Linked DNA regions of Homo sapiens: region 2 is linked to region 1. Evidence: fine-mapped expression QTL. A gene starts in region 1. The other region holds a variant in brackets. All regions are shown on one strand. Distances are between the middles of the regions.

Region 1 (5,387 bases):
CTTAACATGTGTGAGTGTGCATGACCATTATAGAATTTTGAAACCCAGTGCAAAATGAAAATAAGAGTCCCTTTATCTAAAAATGAGGAATTTCAATACAGTGACAGCAGAGCATCAAATGAAGTACAAGGCCCTGTGCCAATTACACAGATCATATATCCATAATGTTGGCTGTGTGGCGCTGTGTGTGTGTTTTAAATATGTTGAATGTTATTACTGGAAAGTTAAATAAAAAGAACTTCATACTACCCATAGATAGAATGATAGATAGAATTCATATCACAGACTACAAAAAGTAGTCATATTAAGTTGGGTAAAAATAGTTCAGATATTAATCAAAAAATATTTTCTGGTTTACAATAATTGACTATTCTGACTGAAGACTGTAGAACATTAAAAGATATTGGTTAATGTTCAATAATTTTCTCTTTAAATTGACATCATATAATTTTATTTGAACTTCTTCTAATACATTATATTGATCATTCTGAGAATGTTGTCTTCTCTTTTAAAATTTATTTACCATAATTCATAAAATGTATTTACTATTTTCTCCCTTAAAGGCTTTTCTGTCCAGTTCATTGAGTCTATGAGCAAACATAATAGTAACCATTCCATTTCTTTAATCATAAAACATTAGCATTTTAAAAATTTATAAACATTTTATTCTTGTCCATCTATCTTATAAAAAATAATATTCAGTTTATCAAAATATCAAAAGCTAATTTAAGACTTCATTTTGGATTTTTTTCTAAATGGTATTAATTATCTCACAGACAGAAAAAAAAAATCATTACTTGATGTTGTTAGAATGTGCCCATTTCATATAACCCTAACAATTCCCAAAGCTTTATGAATATTCTCTTCAGAAAGATTCTTTATAGTTGGGGGCAGAATCCAGTGTAACATTTACATTGCCTTTCCTGCAGCTCTGAATAACTTCCTTTCATGCTTCCCAAAAGTTCAGATATGTACAACCCTTATTCTACCTGGATTTATGGTGATTGTGATAAAAGGAAGACGGATTTCCTTTTGTGCAAAGTATTGATGGATGCTCTTTTACTTTGTTCCTGGAAAGTTAAAAAAAGAAAAAGGTGCAGGCTATGAACAGTTACATACTTCAATGCTGCTGTCAGGGATTTAAAATAAATAAATAAATAAATAAATAAATAAATAAATAAATAAATCCCCAACCTAGGCGTGTTTCATTATAGAAATCATTTTTAAAACTCACTCCAGTGTCATGTCTGTCCTCCTCCCCACCTCCCACTCTAGGTTCCAGTCAAATGGAAATATGTGGCTTTTCTCACTCCATTCTGTCTCTCTTTTCCATTTGCTTACCCCCTTCGCTTCCTCTTTCATTCTATTTCCTTCTGCTTTCATGAACTTTCTCTTTCACACATATTCACTGATGCATTCCCACTCACCTGTTCTCTCTTACTCTGTCACCCCCCAGTACTTACTGAATGCCAGCCATGGGCTAAAGACCATAGTAAGTGGACGCTGGGCAGGAAGAGAAAGGCCATTGTGGCTGGAGGATAGTGATGTGGTACCACGAAACGTCAGAGAGGGCAGTGGGGCCCAGATCACCAGGGCACTGAGGGCCTGGTACCCAGTGGGAAGTGACCAGAAGGTGGGGCACAAAATAGAATCAGATATCCTGCTGCTCTGAGAAGAATGAAGGGGTTGTGGGCAAAAGTGAAAGCTGGAAGATCCCTTAGACAGTCTCTATAGTCACCTTAGGGTTAATTTTGGAGGTGGGGCAGACAGGACTTGTCTATGGATTTGATGTGGGAAATGAGACCAAAAAAGGAATCAGAGACCCAAGTTTCAGGCTTGAGCAACTCTGTTCTCCCTAGTTCATTGCCATCCTTTTTTTTCCTTTCTCCTTCCCTCCTCTTCCTTGTTCACGCTATAGCAGAATGTGACATACTCCTTACCAGCCCCAAGTTCATTCCTCTTCAAGTGTCAGTTTAGAAGTCACAGACTCCAGGAAACTTTCCTGAAGTCCCCACACTGGGGCAAAGCCACACACGTACTGTCATCTCCCTCCCGGCATCAGTGTGCACATTATTACTTTATTCACAGGAGTTCCAAGCAGGAGTTTCTACAGCCCAAATGCAGCAAGTCTGTGTCTAAGCTCAGTTAGCTAAGTGAAATTTGGAAAGTTACTTAAGGAAGTCTCAGTCCCCACATCTGTAAAGTGCAGATAAGAAAATGGTCTACCTCACACAAAGTTTTGCATGAGATGATATACATAAAATGCTTAGCACAAAACTGGCAGAGAGCAAATGCTAGATAAATGATAGTCGTTATTATTATCGCTGTTGTTACTGGTTTACATTATCCACCTTCATCTAAGCAGGGTTTCTGCAGAATAGCAGAAACCAAACTAATGTAGCAAATAAGCTACATAATTCAAGCCCAGGAAAAAGTTAACATTTCAGTGGCATGCATTCAAGACGAATAGTTTGATTTATTAGCCAATTCAGATAAATGTGCACGTGGAAGTCATAGTTAAATATTATCGTCAGTTTCCACGTCCTGCGTTTAATTTGGGGTTTGATTTTCCAAATACAACACTTACCAGATTAGGTGGACCCACAGGATTATTTTTCCTTGAGGTCTCACCTGAGCAGGTGCATGTACAGCAGACGGAGCAGAAAGAGACTGATTAGAGAGGTTGGAGTGGTAGAGGGCGTGACCCTCTTAATCATTCTTCACTTCCTTTTTTAAAAGACGACTTGGCATCGTCCACCACATCCGCGGCAACGCCTCCTTGGTGTCGTCCGCTTCCAATAACCCAGCTTGCGTCCTGCACACTTGTGGCTTCCGTGCACACATTAACAACTCATGGTTCTAGCTCCCAGTCGCCAAGCGTTGCCAAGGCGTTGAGAGATCATCTGGGAAGTCTTTTACCCAGAATTGCTTTGATTCAGGCCAGCTGGTTTTTCCTGCGGTGATTCGGAAATTCGCGAATTCCTCTGGTCCTCATCCAGGTGCGCGGGAAGCAGGTGCCCAGGAGAGAGGGGATAATGAAGATTCCATGCTGATGATCCCAAAGATTGAACCTGCAGACCAAGCGCAAAGTAGAAACTGAAAGTACACTGCTGGCGGATCCTACGGAAGTTATGGAAAAGGCAAAGCGCAGAGCCACGCCGTAGTGTGTGCCGCCCCCCTTGGGATGGATGAAACTGCAGTCGCGGCGTGGGTAAGAGGAACCAGCTGCAGAGATCACCCTGCCCAACACAGACTCGGCAACTCCGCGGAAGACCAGGGTCCTGGGAGTGACTATGGGCGGTGAGAGCTTGCTCCTGCTCCAGTTGCGGTCATCATGACTACGCCCGCCTCCCGCAGACCATGTTCCATGGTAAGCGCTCTTCTCCCTTGCGCACAAGTTCGCGCGCCCGACGCGCCGGGGCAATCCCAGACGCGCTGGGGGCCCCTGCTCCTAGGCAAGTCCGGGAATAGCCCGGCCTTGCACTTTGGACCTGCGGAGAGCACTGGCTCTCCCATGGGCAGCCAACAGCCGCGCCTGAGTATCCTGGCACATAGCCACTTGAACCTGGGGCGGCTGCTGCCCCTGGCAGGCTGCGAGTAACAGTCCCCAACGCCTGCTTTCTGTCCTGAGAGGGAACGCTGCAGCCTCCGCGCCGCTCAGCGGTGGCAGCCCACAGCCGGTCTCAGAAGCAGCCAAAGGCTCTCTGTCTGGCGCCCTTCCCGTGCTCCTGGCCGCCCCAAGTTACTCACGCAGGCGGCCCGGGTTCGGCGAGTAGCTGGGCTCTTGCAGCTCAGAACTCCCTAGAGAAGTGAAAGCGAAGCTCCCACGGGACGCGCTTTTAAACCCTAGGGGAACAGGTCTCCGGAAAACCCCATTTTTCCCCCCTGAGTAAGACTGGGAGTTTCCGGCAAGGGCTGTACCTTGCGCCTATTGCTGGGAAACCAGTCCTGGGGCTGGCGCTGAGGAAGGCCAGCTTCTGGGTTTTTTTGTTTTTGTTTTTGTTTTTGTTGTTATTTTTTCCTACGGGCGCTTCTTGATGGAGGCAGAATGAAATAGGCGTGACTCTAACTTCCAGACCAGTATTGAGACCTAATATATCTTATTTGTGCAGAATACGGATTTAGAATGGACAGGGACAGAATTCAGGAGGGTTGGATTCGGATGGCAGTCATATATGACCAATGAAAGAGCCAAAAAACTTACTGGAATTAAAAAAGAGGAAAAAGGATTGTGAGGGGAAAAGATCTGCTTAGGAAAATTGGAATGCTTTACAGTAAGTACTTCCTCAAGCAAGAAGACAGCTGGGGGGAGGGTGCGGGAATAGGAAACTGACTGCTCTTTCTTTTGATGGCTACTCCGTTAGATCAAGACTTCTTTCCACTCTCGTGGGTAAAGAATCAAGAATTGACACAACCAAGGAGTGCCAGCTCAGTAACAAAACAAAGATAGAGAGAGCGGAAAGAATAGCCAACGTAATTATGGAGGACTTCTAAGGAATGTCCTCCCGGAGCTTAATACAAAACTAAAAATTGAGCACAACCCTATTTTCCTTGCAATGCCCATAGTTCTGCAGTTTCTTCTTCTGGATCACCCTTGGTTCTAATCCTTGCAACACCTCTGCTCTAAAGTAGAAAGGTAAACTGAGAAAAGGAAGCTAGCGTGTGCATTTTTCAGAAAAAGCCTTTACTTCCTGAAGCACAGTTATATGAATCATGGGCTATAAGTTTTCATTAGCAGACAAAATATTAAAATTCTAATAATAATGATTATAATGCATGGCTTCCTGAAGTTTGTTTCAAGAAATTTCACTAGAAGCTTGTTCCATTAAGAGTGCACATAATGTTACTCTTTACCCTTTGTCTTTGCCATTTCTTTTGAGAGTTGAAGTAGTTGAGGATCTACTATGTGGTCTCCAACTGTCTTATCTGGTTTGGGTAATTTCATCATATTTGAGGACCAAAAAGTTGAATAGCAATAAAAATAGACTCTACTCGGGAGGCTGAGGCAGGAGGATTGCTTGAGCCTGGAAGTCAAGGCTGCCGTGAGCCATGATCTTACCACTGTCCTCCAGCCTAGGCAACAGAGTGATGCCCTGTCTCAAAAAATAATAATAGAGAACTAATATTAGAAACCCTGAACAAGCATAAAGGAGAATTACAAACTGCATCACGTTAGTGTTTGAATATTTTTTTAAAAAATGGAAAAGGCCATTTCATAGAACGAACTTACGTGTCATATTCACACTCATCTATGTGACTTTTTTTTCTGCTTTTAACCCTGACACATAACCTACTGTAACAAGAACAAATATTTAGTCTCTTTTTCTGAAATAAAAGCATATGATGCAGTTTCACAGTTTGGCCAGGAAGTACCTTAGTGAGGTTCA
Region 2 (5,387 bases), 94 kb after region 1:
GTACAATTCATATAAACATTTAGATAGCTGATGCTAATACTATTACTACTGTTGTTGCCACTATAAGTTAACATTTATATAATAGTGCTTACTCCATGTCAAGTACAATTCTAATTATTTTGCCCATAGAAATTTATTTATCCTAATAATCCTATGAAATAGGTAGCGTTCATAACTCCATTTACAGATAAGACAAATGAGGTAAAGAGCCCCTAAGTAACTTACCCAAGGTGACCCTGCTAGTGTGTTCCAAAGCTAGGATTTAGATGTTCATTGAAGCATAGTTCCCTCCCTCTCTATAGAGCTTTAATCAAATCTTTAAATTTCACAGGTGAACAGTGTTATATGAACAGCAGAATACTTTAAAAAATACCTCCAGATTAGAGGTTCTTAAACTTTAGTTGAAATTTTTCTTACTCTACTTATATGGCAAAGTAGGAGAGAGTACCCTAAAATTGTAAATAGCTGCTTCCAAAGTACATGCAGGTAATAACAACATCCACTATTTTTCAAACAGCCACTACATGACAATTATGAAGCCAGATACTACACATGCCTTATTTAATGTCCCCCAAATCTCAGAAGATATTATTCCCATTTTAAAGTGGAAGCATGTTCAAAGAGATTATATAAATTGTGAGGCTACTACGTGGCCAGAGTAGTACTTGAACTTAAGTGGGCTGTATTACAGAACTCATATTCAATACACAATGCTGTCATTCAAAGTGGTTGCTTTGCATAGTTACTTCTTTAAATTACTTCTAAACTTCAACAAGCAAAGAATCACTTTGGTGCATGAATGGAATGCCCTGCACCTCTTCAAATGCTCACTCCAAGTCCATTCATGAGGTTTACTCTACTCTTGTGTATAGCCTCTTTGGGGATGTTGTAGAACTACTAGAGTCTTTTTCTAGAAATTCAATCTTTAGGAAATCATTGTCAAAGAATGGACTTTAAATAGGAAGAACACTTTTTTTTTTTTTGGCTATAGAATCGTCTTAAGTGCATGAGATATACAAACAATACAAACACACCCATGAATATATACACATAATGTCACCATATCGGTAACTTGAGGTTGTTCAAAATGTTTATATTTAGAGGAAAATATAAGAGATTATCATCATTAATAGCTACCAATATTAAATACCTGTCATTTATTTTTAGTAACATCTAGAATGGCCTTGATCACTTAAAACATCTTGCCCCAGTCTTACACAGTCCACAAATTTTTCTTTCTGTTCAGAATCTGCAAAGCATTACTCTTACTCTGTATCTAGAATCTACCTGTTAACAGCTCATATGAATAATTAAAGAAGGTTTAATTTTGGAATTGTACTTAATCCATCTTACTGCTAGTCACTGTTACTGTGAGATCTGCATCAGAGAGTTCTGACAGTAGAATCAGCAAAATGAAAAACGGCTCACAGCACAAACTCTTCCTGCTAGGATTTATCACTACTTAAAAATAGCAAATGGCTGCTGCTAGTATCTTAAAGACTTCTCCTACCTTTGTTTATCTAGTTAAATTTATTATTACTTTTCATACATACATACTGAGCAGACTGTTGTAGTAGGTGTTGGTTTAAAAGTTAACTAAGTTACTCTGCTTAATATTTTCCACCATTAATAGGTATATTAATTTTTAGGCCCTAATTTCATATTTAAAATGTGGGCTAGAATTGAGACCCAAATTAGTAAACCTTGAAGACTCATGCTGTAGAGTTTCAAAGTAACTGCCATTGCCACACACTCTTTTCAGCCAGCCAGGTCAGAACTGGCTGTGTCATACTCTTCCTCGAGCTTGACTCTTTGGCAGTGTCATACTTTTTCCCGGTTGTAGGCAGAATTTACAACCATCTAACAAAAAGACTAAGGACCCTTGGATTGAAAGTTTCCTAAAATCTTTTCTTTTTCTGGGCTTTTTATAATAGTTCACCATCGGCTTATCTAAGAGATAATCTAACAATATTATATACTGTACAAGACATTATTTTTCTCAAACTCTGCTTTTTAAAACTACTATTACAAAAAACCCTAATTACTACTAAAAAAAACTTCATAAAAATAATTATTAAATGTGACTGCAATTTGAAACCTCAAAAAATTAATATTTAATGGAATAAAATGTATAACCTAAAAAGTTTTATTTAGTACAACAGAAATGCTTACTAAAAATCAAAATGTTTTAAATCCTAGATTATTTGACACATTTTGGCTTAGAAATTATTCAACAGATTTTTTTAAGTATAGGACAGTAAAAGTTATGTTATTCCATTATATAAAGCTTTTAAGGAAATATCTGAAAAATATTAACCAAACTGAGTTACAAATACTTACTTGTAAATAGGTAATAACTCATGTCTTTTGATGGCACTGTCTGATTTTGTATCACTGTCATACAACCTTTGCACAAGTCTTCCCGTTCGAAGTGGAGGGCCTAACTTGTCCATATTACTATTAAAATATATAAAGGTGTACCCATAAGGAGATTGCTACTGCTTCTTTATATAAAGTTTTTTTAAAAGACATTATTCTGGTTCATCAGATATCTACTCCCCAAGTCCTTAATTTTATCTGACTGTCAAGGTAAGAACTAATGTCCAAAAGAATCCTCAGAGAGTTCATACAATGTCCATTATTAGGTCTGAAAATTCTGACTACACAGGCTACCCTACACATCCAAACAAATGTCAAATTATACACAGCAGGGCAATGGAATCAATGAAGAAACTTAGGAAGAACAACTATTTCAAAAAAAAAATCATGAAGCTATAAGTGAACTGAATGCTGTTATTCACAAATGATTTTTCTTCCTCCCAGAATTCATGGAAACTTTCTCTACTCTTCATATTATTTATTTCCGTGCTTTTTAAAATTCCAAAAATAAGGAATTGACTAAATAACATGTACTCCATTTGACTTTCTAACTCCACTGACTTCTAACAAAAAAGTGACTTTATTTCTGAAATGTATCCAAAGTAAAACAGGACTCGGCATGGAAAAAAAAAACATGGATGACAATTCTAAAAATCACATATAATAATGGTAAGGGGCCTATATA[T/C]ACACACACACATTTTGACCAAAATTATAAAGGCTCTCCATCTAGAGGATAGCAGGACAAACTGCAGGTTTGTAGGATATTTCACTGTTTTAAATCAACCAACCAAATAACTGAATCATATAAACTATCACCAACCAACATCTAGTCATAGTAGGAAGCAGGGAAAATTGAATTATGACATTAGGAAACAATCTTATTTGCTACTGAATAACACATCACTGCTTGTTAACTTTAAAAGTCTGTTCTTTTTAAGAGATATTTGCTCACTCATTTCTTTACTTATTCACTGACTATAAACCCTGAGCATCTATTATGAGCATCTATTATGTGTCAGGCACTGTGCTCCATTCTCAGGATGTGGTGGTAAATAAGATAGATCTGATACCTGTTCTTATGGAGTTTAGTGTCTGAAAAGAATGTGTTCATTTTCCTAGATTATAGATATCTAAGAGGAGGGACACATTTTATTAATTTTTGTCTTCTTTCAGTAGCTTATACATAGCAGGCATTTTGTTGAAAAAGTTGATATTAATACTTTGCAGGTGGTGGTGTTTACGTGAGGATTTAAAGTTCTTAAAAGCAGCCTTCATTAAATAAATGTATTAAGTAAAATTTCTAAAATATTTTAAATTAAAATTTGTTTTTAATTTGTTAAAGTACAAAGAAACCCATCTATTGGAATTTTAAACATTCAGATTTTATTCTAATCCTTAATTATCAAAACATTTTTCTTCCAAACAGTGGTTATCTTACATGATTCTGGAAATAAGGATTAAAATTTTTCTTTCTCAGAAAAAACTTCCTGAAATTAAAATTTAGAAAATTTTTGACTATATTTTAAAAACATATTCCTCTTATATGATAAGAAATGGTCAAATCCTACATGTGATACAACAAAGTTCAGTTCAAGAAAGATGTGTAAAATATAATAAAAACCTAAAGGTAATTATCCAATGGAAACATTACATATATAAAAAGATTGCCAATATTTTCAGATTTTGAAAACCTAATTGAAGGACAGGTTCCAGTAATGATTTTAACCATACTTGTATTATAACATTCAACTTGATTTATATGTGTGCATATATATATATGTACATTCAAAACTCAAATGTTACTTAGGCTAAAAGTTAATGAATGCTATTTTTAGGCTATAATCACTTAATAACTTACATTCTAAGTTGCCATTAGGCTATCAAAAACAAAATCTATAAATCTCAATAACAATCAAGATTTTATACATATAATACTTTCACAGGCCTTCAAAATACTCATAGCTGAATGAGTATGGTGACGATATCAACCTATCCCTGATTTGAAATAAACTTTAACATAGGAAAAGTCATTTACTGTTGATACCAGGAGAGTGAATTCACTTACGAAATAAGTAATTTTAGTGTGGCTTACTAGGTACCTTGTAGGAGTGTAGCAAGTACTGTAGATTGAGATATAACAAAAAGATGATTTCTGAAATAATATTGGGAAAAGAATTTACCGGATGGTATTTTGTATCTTTGCACACCTCTGTTGTTATGATGCTATAAGGCAATCTTGTCCAACCAGCAGCTCACAGGCCACATGCCACCCAAGATGGCTTTGAATGGGGCCCTATACAAATTCGTAAACTTTCTTAAAACATTATGAAATTTTTTTTTTTTTTTTTAGTTCATCAGCTATCATTAGCGTTCGTGTATTTTATATGTGGTCCAAGACAATTCTTCTTTCAGTGTGGCCCAGGGAAGCCAAAAGATTGAACACCCCCCTGCTCTAAGGCAGTTTTGAAATGTGTCATACCTCTACTTTTGATCCTAAATTTATCAATCCTACACAAATAATTAGTATCTCAATTCCACAGCAAAGTTAGCTCCCTATCCAAAATCTCCAATCATTGTTATCCACATAAGAAACCGAGGTCTGGAATTCTAGGTTATCACAAGCATTTCTAGATCAACAATAAAAGATAAGTTCATAAAAATTCACATAACGCTCCACACAAATTCATTTCACACACATCAAAAGACTGGATTATGAAAACAGCATGTTTCCTATTCATATAAAAATGTACTCAAAAACTAAAGACATTTACTTCTTAATGTTTTAAATAAGGTATGAGAAACAAAATGCAATTTTTTAAATTAAAAAATGCTCCATACATGCCTTTGGTTGCTCTAATTTTAGGTGTATTACAGTTGCTCTCCAAAGTAAATGTGCTTTTCATAGTAACTAAAAGGAAGTAAATCTCTGATATTTGATAGTTTCACTATTGAAAATTATTAACTGAGATATCCATTTAAACTGGTAATAAGGTACAACTGTGTAAACT

Direction of the effects. Alleles are on the strand shown, and positions count from the first base shown. SD is a standard deviation of normalised expression in the study named.
With allele T in place of C in region 2, the expression in cerebral cortex of the gene that starts at base 2,820 in region 1 is lower (moderate effect, 0.64 SD a copy in GTEx).

The links. PIP is the estimated chance that this variant, and not a neighbour inherited with it, causes the effect.
Region 2: its variant is the best candidate, but not a certain one, in a credible set for the expression of IL7 in cerebral cortex (GTEx, PIP 0.57).

What each region holds. Positions count from the first base shown.
Region 1 is chr8:78,802,896-78,808,282 of GRCh38, reverse strand. It overlaps IL7 (interleukin 7), which reads left to right and starts at 2,820. Exons shown (of 6, transcript NM_000880.4): 1 at 2,820-3,370. The coding sequence starts at 3,361. MITA1 (metabolism induced tumor activator 1) reads right to left here and starts at 3,811. Exons shown (of 3, transcript XR_002956715.2): 1 at 2,588-3,811.
Region 2 is chr8:78,709,060-78,714,446 of GRCh38, reverse strand. All of the region lies in intron 7 of ZC2HC1A (zinc finger C2HC-type containing 1A), which reads right to left. It also overlaps a transcript of IL7 not described here. Among named protein-coding and RNA genes, the nearest start is that of ZC2HC1A, 46 kb to the right of the region's middle. The variant T/C (reference allele first, on the strand shown) is at 3,065.